Linked DNA regions of Homo sapiens. The protein of the gene in region 2 binds, or shares a complex with, the protein of the main gene of each other region. Each region holds a gene or a part of one and is shown on either strand. Other genes may lie near its edges. The genes, in order: SUPV3L1 and PNPT1.

What was found.
Region 1: PNPT1 (region 2) and SUPV3L1 share a complex: the UniProt entries of both Homo sapiens proteins name them as parts of the mitochondrial degradosome (mtEXO) complex.

The regions. Positions count from the first base shown.
Region 1 is NC_000010.11:69,204,234-69,209,805, forward strand, and holds the end of SUPV3L1 (ATP-dependent RNA helicase SUPV3L1, mitochondrial), read left to right. Parts: intron 1-3,559; coding exon 3,560-3,708; intron 3,709-4,366; coding exon 4,367-4,802; 3' UTR 4,803-4,860; downstream 4,861-5,572. UniProt on the Homo sapiens protein: Major helicase player in mitochondrial RNA metabolism. Component of the mitochondrial degradosome (mtEXO) complex, that degrades 3' overhang double-stranded RNA with a 3'-to-5' directionality in an ATP-dependent manner.
Region 2 is NC_000002.12:55,669,536-55,676,894, forward strand, and holds part of PNPT1 (polyribonucleotide nucleotidyltransferase 1, mitochondrial precursor), read right to left. Parts: intron 3,545-7,359; coding exon 3,358-3,544; intron 2,512-3,357; coding exon 2,460-2,511; intron 1,842-2,459; coding exon 1,784-1,841; intron 1-1,783. UniProt on the Homo sapiens protein: RNA-binding protein implicated in numerous RNA metabolic processes. Catalyzes the phosphorolysis of single-stranded polyribonucleotides processively in the 3'-to-5' direction. Mitochondrial intermembrane factor with RNA-processing exoribonulease activity.

The DNA.
Region 1 (5,572 bases), on a different chromosome or scaffold from region 2:
ATAACATGTTCTCTCACCTCCCGCCCTATTTCCTCTGCTTTGCATGCTCTCCCCACCCCACTAAACCCAAAGGCCTCCTCTTCTCTGAATCTTGTCCTGACTCACTGAGGTTCACTGCCATTTCCTCTGTAGGCCTGAGCATTCTACATATGAGCTATATTCTAATCAAATCTAGCTCTAAACTTATTTTTTAAATAACATAAATAGTCCAGTGCTGTGGCTCATGCCTGTAATCCCAGCACTTTGGGAGGCAGGAAGGATTGCTTAAGCCTAGGAGTTCGAGAACATCTCCAGCAACATAGCAAGACTCTGCCCTTTAAAAAAAAAATTACATAAATAATACATACATTCTCTTTATACAAAATGAGAACATTACAGATAGCTTAAATGTGGCTCCCTCCCCAATCTTAGTCCTCTGAAATAACTACTTGTGTAAGTTTGTGTGTATCTTTGCAGACTGTTTTTCATTGCGTTTGCCTATGTGCATGTTCATGTGGAAACACTAGATTTGTTGTGAGGGTGCATTTCCCCATAAAAAATTATCTTTTTTTTTTTTTTGAGACAGAGTCTCACTCTGTCGCTGAGGCTGGAGTACAGTTGTGTCATCTCAGCTCACTGCAACCTCTGCCTCCTGGGTTCAAGCGATTCTCGTGCCTCAGCCTCCTGAGTATCTGGGATTACAGGCATGTGCCATGCCTGGCTAATTTTTGTATATTTTGTAGAGGCAGGGTTTCGCCATGTTCCCCAGGCTGGTCACGAACTCCTGAGCTCAAGCAGTCCACCTGCCTCAGCCTCCCAAAGTGCTAGGATTACAGGCATGAGCCATTGTGCCCAGCCCTATCAACGTTATCTTAATGAATTACTCACAACTTGCCTTTTCTTTTTCTCTTAATAATATGTGTTAGAGATCTTCCATGTCCAGATGTTTACCTAGAAAATATGTTTCTTAGAGCTGGCATTTGTGAAAAACTTAGCTAGCATAAGGTTGAAGTTTATGGAACAGTCTTGAACTGCTGTAAACTGACCTGAGTGGAACTCAGTCCCATGGCCTTGGCACCATTCACACCATCCTTTAAACAGCTATTCTAGTGAATAGAAGCTCTTTACTAAGGTGTAGGGAGTCTCTGGAACATGCAGGTCAACAGTTGCTTGTTTTCTTAAGATAAGGTCTCACTATGTTGCCCAGGCTGCAGTGCAGTGGCACAATCATAGCTCACTGTAACCCCAAACTCCTGGGCTCAGGCGATCCTTCCACCTCAGCCTCCTGAGTAGCTAGGACTACAGGTGTGCGCCATGATGCGTGGTGTGTTTTCTTTTTGAGATGAAGTCTCACTCTGTTGCCCAAGCTGGAGTGCAGTGGTATGAGCTTGGCTCACTGCAACCTCCGCCTCCCAGGTTCAGGCGATTCTCCTGTCTCAGCCTCCCGAGTAGCTGGGATTACAGGTGCCCGCCACCATGCCTGGCTAATTTTTTGTATTTTTAGTAGAGATGGGGTTTCACCATGTTGGCCAGGCTGGTCTCAAACTCCTGACCTCAAGTGATCCACCCGCCTTGGCCTCCCAAAGTGCAGGGATTACAGGCATGAGCCACCACACCCGGCCGCTCCGTGTGTTTTCTGTTTAAAAATTAGAATATGAAATCTAGAGGCTTTTCCTTTTTTCCTGATCTTTGTCATTACTGAACTATGAAAGAGCTCAATCACATTAATGACTTAGGATGCCCCTTAGGACTGTGATTTGGAAGCTGTGCTCCATGGAGCTCCTTTAGGGCCAGCTGCTGGATGGATGGATGGATGGATGGATGGATGGGCGGGCATCTCTCCCTGCTCTCTCTGCATAGCTCCTTACTTAGCTCTTTTATGTATTGGGCTTCCACTAGTTGTTTGTGGCCAAAAAAAATAGAGCCACTGCCTTTATAAGATAACTTGAGAACTCATGCTTGGCCTGTCCTGCCTAGCAGGTAGTGTGGTCACATTTCTACCCTTTATGGCTATCCTACTTGGCATTTATTAAACTTAGCAGAGTGGACCAGACTGAATTTAACAAAATTGTGGCATTATTTAACTACAATTGATCTAAAACTGCTCTTCCTCTCTGAAGTATTAACCTTGCTTAGGTTAAGCATTTAGAGATAATTTCCCCTAATCAGGAAATGAATCATTTGAAATCAGCTTGAATCTTGAAGCTGAAGATTTTATTTAAACTCTTGCTTGAGGGGTCTTACTGTGTGGTTGTATGTCTATCTTCTGTAGTACAGGTGATGTATAATATTGCCTAATTCTGGGATGCAACATGGTTTTGAAAGCACATTCCCCAGCAGTGTCTTGTGGTTCAAGACAGGGCTGTGATGTCTCACGTTACCAGTGAGGAAGCTGAAGCAAAGAGTGTTGACTTGGCCAAAGCCACACAGCTCGCAGGAGGCAGATCCAAGATTGACTTCTGACCAGCCTTGCACCAGGCCACCTCAGAGGGTTTCTATATAATAAGGGAGGACAGCCAGGTGCGGTGGCTCACGCCTGTAATCCCAGCACTTTGGGAGGCCGAGGCGGGTGGATCACAAGGTCGGGAGTTTGAGACCAGCCTGACCAACATGATGAAACCCCGTCTGCACTAAAAATACAAAAATTAGCTGGGTGTTGTGGCGGGCGCCTGTAATCCCAGCTACTCAGGAGGTTGAGGCAGGAGAATCACTTGAACCCAGGAGGCGGAGGTTGCAGTGAGCCAAGATCGTGCCATTGCACTCCAGCCTGGGTAACAGAGCGAGACTCCGTCTCAAAAAAATAAAAAATAAGGGAGGACATTAACAAGATAGAGAAACTTAAGCTCGTATTTGAGGTTATAGGACTATTACATATGAGATAGAAATAGGAGTCTTCAGGTACTGTCTGTCCATAGCTTTAGAACATCACATATTCCTAAATAAGAGTTAACAGACTTAGGCCCTGGAAAGTTAGTCCTTCTACAGCTTCTTTTTTTTTTTAACTGCTCCTTGTGGAGCAGGGATACCCTATAGGTAGTGTGCCCAGAGTAGCCCTTGAACTTCTGCTGCACATATTATTACCCTGGTTTTAGAAAAAGAAGGAAATCATCTTTTTTTGTTTTTTCTTTCTCCAAATGGTCTCACTGCTGGAGTGCAGTGGCACGATCATGGCGCACTGCAGCCTTGACCTCCCTGGGCTCAGTAATCCTCCACCTCAGCTTCCTGAGGAGTAGATGGAATCACAGGCACACACCACCATGCCCAGCTAATTCTTTGTGTTTTTTGTATGGATGGGGTTTCTCCATGTTGCCCCAGCTGGTCTCGAACTCCTGGGCTCAAGTGATCTACCCGCTTCAGACTCCCAGAGTGCTGGGATTATAGACGTGAGCCACTGTACCTGGCCTTATAAAGTATTAAATGTTCTTTAAAATGTAGAAGAGTATAAAGGAGAAAAGAAACCACCTGTCTATTGAAATACAACCACAATGTTTTGTTTTGCTTTCTTTTTTTTCTCTTTCTAATTATAGACTTAAGGGAATTCTGACACTTCTCTGAAACCCTTTTCCTCTTTCTCTCTCAGTTTGCCAGGCAGTATAGCAGGAATGAGCCCCTGACCTTTGCATGGTTACGCCGATACATCAAATGGCCTTTACTTCCACCTAAGAATATTAAAGACCTCATGGATCTTGAAGCTGTCCACGATGTCTTGGATCTTTACTTGTGGCTAAGGTACCAACATTTTTCCTTTATGTGCTCTCATTTTTCTAGTAGGACAAATTAAAGGTTTTATGAATTTGTTTTTCTATTTCAAATTATGGACATATTTGCAAGATGCTCTATATTATGTCTATTGTCCATAAAGGCAATTCAACTGATGGAATGGTTTCCCATTCCAAAAATGACTTGAGTTCTTGCAATTCTAGTTAAGATGGCTAGGTGAGAAGGAAGGTCCACTGGACTCCTGCTGGTCAAAGGATGGTCCTTGGACCAAAAGCATTGGTATCACCTGGGAGCTTGTTAGAACTAAGGAGTATCAGGCCCATGCCTGACTTGATCAGATTCTGCATTTTAACAAGATCCCTGGGTGATTCACTTGTACATTATCATTTGAGAAGTCCTGTTCTAGGCCAGTGATTCTCAAAGGAGGGGCATGTCCCTCTCCAGGAGTATATCAGAGTCTATTGAGGTATAGTGCTGACCCACCCTCAGGATGACATATTCCTCCGATATGTGGGGGCAGAAATCAAGGTTGAGCAAAGGCACTGAAGAGAGTTTGCAAAAAGAACATTTAGAATTTATCAATGTCATGATGTAGGTGTGCCATTGAGAGTTGTCCAGTGACTGCGATAAGAGCTGTTGCTATAATGCTAATGTGTCTTTTTCCCAGCTACCGATTTATGGATATGTTTCCAGATGCCAGCCTTATTCGAGATCTCCAGAAAGAACTAGATGGTATTATCCAAGATGGTGTGCACAATATCACTAAATTGATTAAAATGTCTGAGACGCATAAGCTGTTGAATTTGGAGGGCTTTCCATCAGGGAGCCAGTCACGATTGTCAGGAACCTTAAAGAGCCAAGCTAGAAGGACACGCGGCACCAAAGCTCTAGGGAGTAAAGCTACTGAGCCACCCAGCCCCGATGCAGGAGAGCTGTCCCTTGCTTCCAGATTGGTGCAGCAAGGACTCCTCACTCCAGACATGCTGAAACAGCTAGAAAAAGAGTGGATGACACAACAAACTGAACACAACAAAGAAAAAACAGAGTCTGGGACTCATCCAAAAGGGACGAGAAGAAAGAAGAAGGAACCTGATTCGGACTAGTTTTCTGTTCCTGTTTTTTTTTTTTTATTTAATTTTGCAAATAAAAATTTATTTTGAATCCTTTTTCCTCATATGCATTTACTCCCTCCTCTAGTATTGTGGCTATCTGGTACTGGGGGATTTTTGGTGTGTGTGTGTGTTTGTGTGTGTGTTTGTTTGTTTTTTCTTTTTTTGCACAGAAAAATCTCTCTTGATGACTAAACTTGTTTTTTTTTTTTTCAACATTTAGAAAATACTAGGATATCATGGAGGTTTAATTTAAGTCTTTATATAATGGCCATTTGTAGAATAGTACTAAGACAGTGCACTATAAGGAACTCTGCATGGGAATAAAATCACTTTGGTGAATTGTTTGACCAGTTTCCTATGCCATGCTGAGGATGTCATGGATGCAGTTCTTTGACAAACATTGCTGTCTGTTGTACCCATATACCAGAGGCTATTTAGGTGCTGGAAATATGCAGTAAGCAAGACTGACAATCTTCTACCCTCATGGATCTCATATTTGGTAGGAGAGACAGGAACAGGTTAACAAATAAATCCTGTCAGATCGGTGAGGGCAGAGATTGTAGTCTATTTCACTACTGCATCCACAGTATCTGGAATATAGCAGAAGCAAAATCATTCTTTGTGAGATGAATGGGTGTAATTTTAGAGATGAATGCTAGAAAGAATAAGGAAAGAGTGATGCTGAGTGGCAGGGAAGGGCTGTTTTAGGTAGGGTGGTCTTCCCTTGTCCAAAGGCCAGCCTACACTTGTTCAACGAAGTT
Region 2 (7,359 bases):
AGGAAAACAATCAGTACCAAAATGTTTAAAATATCCTATCAACCCAGAGGGTCGTGAAGATATTCTACTATGTATAATACAAACAAAAAGTCACTATTCTTTTAAAATAAGACAATATTCGCTATAAAATTTCTTTCTTACCAAATAGGATGAAATGTAGTGAGAAAGGACTAAACATATTCAATGACAGTTACAATTAATGGCCTTAATATCAATGCTAACAGCACTTTTTTTTTTTTTTTTGAGATGGAGTCTTGCTCTATTGCCCAGGCTGGAGTGCAGTGGCGGTCTCAGCTCACTACAACCTCTGCCTAACAGGTTCAAGTGATTCTCATGCCTCAGCCTCCCAAGTAGCTGGGATTACAGGAGCCTGCCACCATGCCCGCCTAATTTTTGTATTTTTGGTAGAGATGGGGTTTCACCATATTGGCCAGGCTGGTCTTGAACTCCTGATCTCAAGTGATCCACCCACTTTGGCTTCCCAAAGTGCTGGGATTACAGGCATGAGCCACCACGCCTGGCCAGTTTTTTATCTTAAAATAAATATTCATGTGAGAGTATATTTGTCTATTAGAAAAATTAACAAAAACTATGTCATACTTCATTTATATTCAGTTTGTGTGAGGTTGGTATTATTACTATTATTTTTATTTATTTATTTATTTTTTTGAGACAGAGTCTCGCTCCGTTGCCCAAGCTGGAGTGCAGTGGCGCGATCTCGACTCGCTGCAAGCTCCACCTCCTGGGTTCACGCCATTCTCCTGCCTCAGCCTCCTGGGTAGCTGGGACCACAGGTGCCCGCCACCACGCCCGGCTAACTTTTTGTATTTTTAGTAGAGACAGGGTTTCACCGTATTAGCCAGGATGGTCTCGATCTCTTGACCTCGTGATCTGTCTGCCTCGGCCGCCCAAAGTGCTGGGATTACAGGCGTGAGCCACCGCGCCTGGCCAGAGGTTGATATTATACAGTAAGATCCTTTGCTTAATAATTTCTGGAGAGCTAAATTACCTAAGTTCTGTATCTTATGATTCCACTAGGTATTAAGAATAGCATCAGTTAACATTTATTGAACACTTACGGTGTGGCAGGCACAGATGTAAATGATTCACTCATTTAATCCCCATAAACCAGGTATTATTAACACTGCAATTTCACAGATCAAGAACTCAAGAATTTTAAAGAATATATTTGGGTTTTCAAATGATAAGATACCAGGTTACATTTCTTGTATGGTAGGAGTTTGATTCAGAAAAGATCAGGAACATTCACATTCAACATTTACTAGGTACCTACTCTGCATCAAATGTAGTGCTAGCTACATTCATAGAAGTTAATTTAGCAGTAACCTTGTGAGCTATCATTATTACAAGTTTATTGAAAATAAAGCTGAGAAGCAATGAGAGTAACATTTATTTGAGATCTTCAACTAAAGTTAAAAAAAAAAAAAGTCTATTATTTCTTTTAATGCTTTTAAAATTAAAAAATACATAGTAATAGCGGTTCTGTGCAAAGGGGACTTTCTCTTTCCCCGAAACAGTTCGGGGAAGCTTTGGAGAAGAGGTGGCATTTGAACCTTGGGTTAGAAGAAGACCACCTGCTATGAGAGAGCATTCTAGGTCTAGGGAACAGCAGCTGTAAAGTTGAAAGTCCTTTGAATTCTTCTTTTCCTACAGATGTGATGCCTTTCCTCTTTGACCTTTAATCCCAAGAAGCAAGAGTCAGGCCATGCCTTATTAAAGCTGCCCTCAGCAAAAAAATAAAATAAAATAAAATAAAATTTACCTTTTAGTTGTTCCTCCGTATCTAATCTTATTTTGTTAACAGCTTCATCTCTGGAAACCTAAAAGAAAGTTGAGGTTCAGTTATTACATATACATGACAACATTTAATATTTCTGTTTTCTAATTATTATACAATGAACACATTGTGAATTACTCTGATTTCTTTAATATTCTTTAAAATATTGGAATTGGTTCTTGATTTATGACAAATACTACATGTTAATTCATTCAAATACATTTGTACACTCCCCTAAAACTTATATTAAAAAGAAAAGAACTTTGGGTGGCCAAGGTGGGCAGATCACTTGAGGCCAGGAGTTTGAGACCAGCCTGGCCAACATGGCCGTCTCTACTAAAAATACAAAAGATAGCTGAGTGTGGTGGCGTGCACCTGTAATCCCAGCTACTTGGGAGGCTGAGGCATGAGAATCGCTGGAAGGCGAAAGTTGCAGTGAGCTGAGATCATGCCACTGCACACCAGCCTGGGCGACAGAGAGAGACTCTGTCTCAAAAACAAAACAAAACAAAAGAATGGAGAAACAATTAGGCTTTTGTTAGTTTTTCATTTAGAGATTTTTAATAAAAATAGGACTAGCATTCATAAAGAAAATTACATGAGTTATGACAAAAATGTATTCCTAGGGCAATTATGGAAGACAAAACTCAGGTATACCTACTTTGTCATGCTCGTAATCTGTAAAAACTGCATAGAGTCTCTCCATAGCAAGTCTATTTAAGCAGAAAATAAATGTTAGCATAATAATATCTGGAAACAAGAGGCAGTTTCTATTATAAACAAAACTGAAATATTTAATAATAATCAGCTAAAACTTTAATAAATACTTCAGAAAGAATTGAAAATTTATATTGCTATTTATCATTGCTAATCTGTTTACTATTTATGGTATAGAACACAAATTTCTTTCTCCCACCCTCCCAGGGGAAACCACATGTAGTATCCTGTTCTTTTCTTCTTAATTGTTCAATTAATTTCACCTTTCATATATTCTTTTTAACCTCTTCCTTTCTTCATTCTACCCATTTTGGCTCCATTATCACATGAAACTCTTTTGCTAGAAAGAGTTAATTTAATTTCCAACTCATGGCTGTGCAACTGACATTAAGGGAAAGTATTAACCTTTTCAATTTTTTCAAATAAAATAATTTTCCAGTGATTCATTTACATTTACTGAGTGTCTGCCTAACGTTCTAAGCACTGGGCATGTAACAGTGATTACCTCTGATTTCTTTTTGAGAATTCCAACAGTTTCCTTAGATATTCAAATATCTTAACGTTTTATTCTTTTTCCTAGACGTGGAGAGATGTGGTGCTTACCTGAATCTTGACCAATAAACACACTCTTTCATTTGAGATTCAAAGTTAGGTCTTACAAGAGTGATGTGGGCTTATCCTTTTTAAGGGAGTAAGCAGATATTTATGGGAATGACTCTTAAAACAGAAAAGTGCTATTTATGAAGTAATGCATGGGCAGTGCTTCCATGGGAAGTTTCTCTCCCACGAGGAAATTAAATCTGATGACAATTTCATATTTTCATTTGCACAGATGTTCTTACTTATGAGTATATTTCACAATCTCTGGCGAAGGGGTAAATAACTTCTGAGGTGTCCTCTTGGTAACACCAGTTTCTTTTACCAACTGCTGAATGCCCTGAATTATTTGTTGGGTATATTTCACTCCCACTTTGATAGCATGGCAAAAGTCCTGCTGTAAAATGTTCTCTGCAGAGGCTTCCAACATGACTATTTAAAGGAAAAAGAAAAAAAAAATGACTGCCATCGAAGCTCTTAGTAATATAACATTTTCAAATACCATGACATGACATAAATATTATGGATCAATTTTACTTCTTAGTGATAGATCCACCTTGATTTCTTTCCTCAGAATCAACATACTTCCAAAATGTAAGCAGCGGTAAATGAATAAAGACACCTTGATATCTGTATTTAGGTTTACATTCTCCTTAAGTTTAAGGAGGGATTTCCCATAAAAAATGAAACAGAAAAAAAAAAGAAATCATGCACATATTTTAAAAATAAGTTTTATTGAGCTATAAGTCACATAAAATAAAAATTAAATCTTTTAAAGTATACAAGTGCATTTGTTTTTAATACTTTTTTTTTTTTTTTGAGACAGAGTCTCACTCTGTTGACCACGCTGGAGTGCAGTGGCGCAATCTCGGCTCACTGCCAGCTCTGCCTCCCAGGTTCACACCATTGTCCTGCCTCAGCCTCCCGAGTAGCTGGGACTACAGGCGCCCGCCACCATGCCCAGCTAATTTTTTGTATTTTTAGTAGACATGGGGTTTCACTGTGTTAGCCAGGATGGTCTCAATCTCCTGACCTTGTGATCTGCCTGCCTCAGCCTCCCAAAGTGCTGGGATTAGACGTGAGCCACTGTGCCTGGCATCTTTTTATATTTTTAAAAGGCCATATGTATGTCCTTTTCTGTGAACTGTTTATATTATTTGCCAAAGTGACTTTAGGTGATCTGCCTGCCTTGGCCTTCCAAAGTGCTGGGGATTACAGGCGTGAGCCACTACATCCAGCTAATTTTTGTAGTTTTAGTAGGGACGGGGTTTTGCCATGTTGCCCAGGCTGCTCTCGAACTCCTGACCTCAGGTGATTAACCCGCCTCAGCCTCCTAAAGTGCTGGGATTACAGGCGTGAGCCACCGCTCCTGGCAATACATATTTTAAATAAAATGTAAAAATATGTAACACAATAGGAATCTAATAAATATTTCCTGTTTAACAATTAATTCTCACATTGTCTAATTCTTGCACAGATGGGGAAATCTCTGCAGTGATCCTGTTTCAAGTAAGCCAACTAAAGGACTGAATAATAGAATTTTTTCTATTGCATTAGAAATAGCTAAAGGAAGTTTTCTAAACAGAAATGAAAAAATAAGAGAAGACATCGTGGACTGTTAGAAAGGAAAGAAAATCAGTATGCAAACTAAGAATAAATATAGAGGCTGAGCGTGGTGGCTCACACCTGTAATCCCAGCACTTTGGGAGGCTAAAGTGGGCAGATCACCTGAAGTCAGAGTTCAAGACCAGCCTGGGCAACATAGCGAGGTCCTGTCTCTATAAAAAATGAAAGAATTAGCCAGGCATAGTGGCGTGCACCTGTAGTCCCAGCTACTCAGGAGGCTGAGGCATGAGAATCACTTGAACCCAGGAGGTGGAGGTTGCAGTGAGCTGAGATCACGCCACTGCACTCTAGCCTGGGCGACAGAATGAGGCTCCATCTCAAAAAAATAAATAAATAAATAGAGAAAAAGAGTAAATACAGAGCAATAAGCTTTTCTTTCCCTCTTGAGTTTTCTAAATTATGTTTGACAGTTGAAGCAAAAGCAAAAATTGTAACACTGCCTGATATGGTTCTAACTGTAGAAGAAAATGATAACAATTGCATTCCAAATGGGAGAGGGTAAAGGGAAATAAGGTTTCCATATTTTGCACCAGGCCTGAAGAAATTTCTTCTGATACCATGATACTGAGATGGCTATATTCTTTTTCTCATCTGTATTTCCAAGATATCCTCTCACTTTGACAGGATTAATCCGGAGATTTTTAAAAATTCATTTAATGGGTATAAATTATATCTCAATAAATTGCTTTTAAAAATAAAATATGTGGCCAGGTGTGATGGCTCATGCCTATTGTCCCAGTACTTTGGGAGGCCAAGGTGGGAGGATTATTTGAGGCCAGGAGTCTGGGACCAGGCTGAGCAACACAGCAAGGTCCTGTCCCTAAAAAGATAACAACTAGAAGATAAAAAACTCAGCTGCGGTGGTGTGCCTGTAATCCTAGCTATTCTAGAGGCTGAGGCAGGATGATCACTTGAGGCCAGCAGTTTCAGGCTAGGCTACAGTGAGCCATGATCACGCCACTATACTCATACTCTAGTCTGGACAATAGAGTTGAGGAGAGTTGAGAACCAGATTCAAAAAAAAAAAAAATATGGCTGGGCATGGGGCTCATGCTTGTAATTCCAGTGCTATGGGAGGCCAGGACAGGAGGATTGCTTGAGGCCAGGAGATTAGCCTGGGCAATATAATGAGATGCTATATCTAATAAAAATAATGGTAAAATTTAAAAAATAGAATATGACAAAGAAAAATGGATACCCCCCAAATAAACTTTGTTTTCACTCATTAAACTTTAATGCAATTCCTTTTAAAAAATACTTTCTAAGAAAATTTCTTTAGCCAGGTGTGGTGACATGTGCCTGGATTCCCAGCTACTCAGGAGGCTGAGGACATAGGATCGTTTGAACCCCACAGTTTGAGGCTGTAGTGATGTATAATCACACCATTGCATTCCAGCTTGGCAACAGAGTGAGACTGTCTTAAAAAAAGAAAGAAAGAAAGAAAGAACACTCCTTACAGTTGAGTCTACAGAGCTGTGCTGTCCAATATGGTAACTACTAGCCACATATGGCTACTTGCATTTAAATTATTTAAAATTAGACAAAATTAAAATTTTGGTTCCTCAGTTACTCTAGCCACATCTGAAGTGCTAAGTAGCCACATGATCAGATATAAAACATTCCCTTCACTGCAGAGTTCTACTGGACAACACTGCTATCGATGCTAAAAATTTAAACATAAAAGCTTGTCAAAATGATTGCTATAGGCCCAGCGTGGTGGCTCACGCTTGTAATCCCAGCACTTTGGGAAGCTGAGGCAGGTGGATCACCTGAGTTCAGGAGTTTGAGACCAGCCTGGCCAACATGTTGAAACCCCATCTCTACTAAAAATAAAAAATTAGCCAGGTGTGGTGGTGCACGCCTGTAGTCCCAGCTACTTGGGAGGCCGAGTCAAGAGAATCGCTTGAACCTGGAGATGGAGGTTGCAGTGAGCCGAGATTGCGCCACTGCACTCCAGCCTGGGCGACAGAGTAAGACTCCATCTCAACCAAAAAAAAAAAAAAAAAAAAAAGAAGATTGCTATAAACTGTCAACCATTTTAGCAGTTGAAGATGAAGGAGTTTTGAGATTAGCTGAAGCTATAAATTCTAGACCCAAAATATCTTCTAAAAACATGTTACTGGTATACTTTTTCCTGACCGATATCTTCTCACACACAGAAATATTAGTGATATTAAATATACCAGTTGAAAACAAACATCTAAATGGTACGGTTCAGAATGTTGGTGTTGAAGTAACCCAGCAGCTGACAGCATGGAGTAACTATTCTTGCCGTGTAAGATTATACTCTAAAGATCTGGATGACTGCCCGGGAGTGGTGGCCCATGCCTGCAATCCCGGCACTTCGGGAGGCTGAGGCAGGTGGATCACCTGAGGTCAGGAGTTTGAGACCAGCCTGACAAACATGGTGAAACCCTGTCTCTACTAAAAACACAAAAATTAGCCAGGTGTGGTGGTGCACGCCTGTAATCCCAGCTACTCAGGAGGCTGAGTCAAGAGAATCACTTGAACCTGGGAGGCGGAAGTTGCACTGAGCCAAGATCATGCCACTGTACTCCAGCCTCGGCAACAGAGAGAGACCTGGTCTCCAAAAAAAAAAAAAAAGATTTGGATGACTAAAT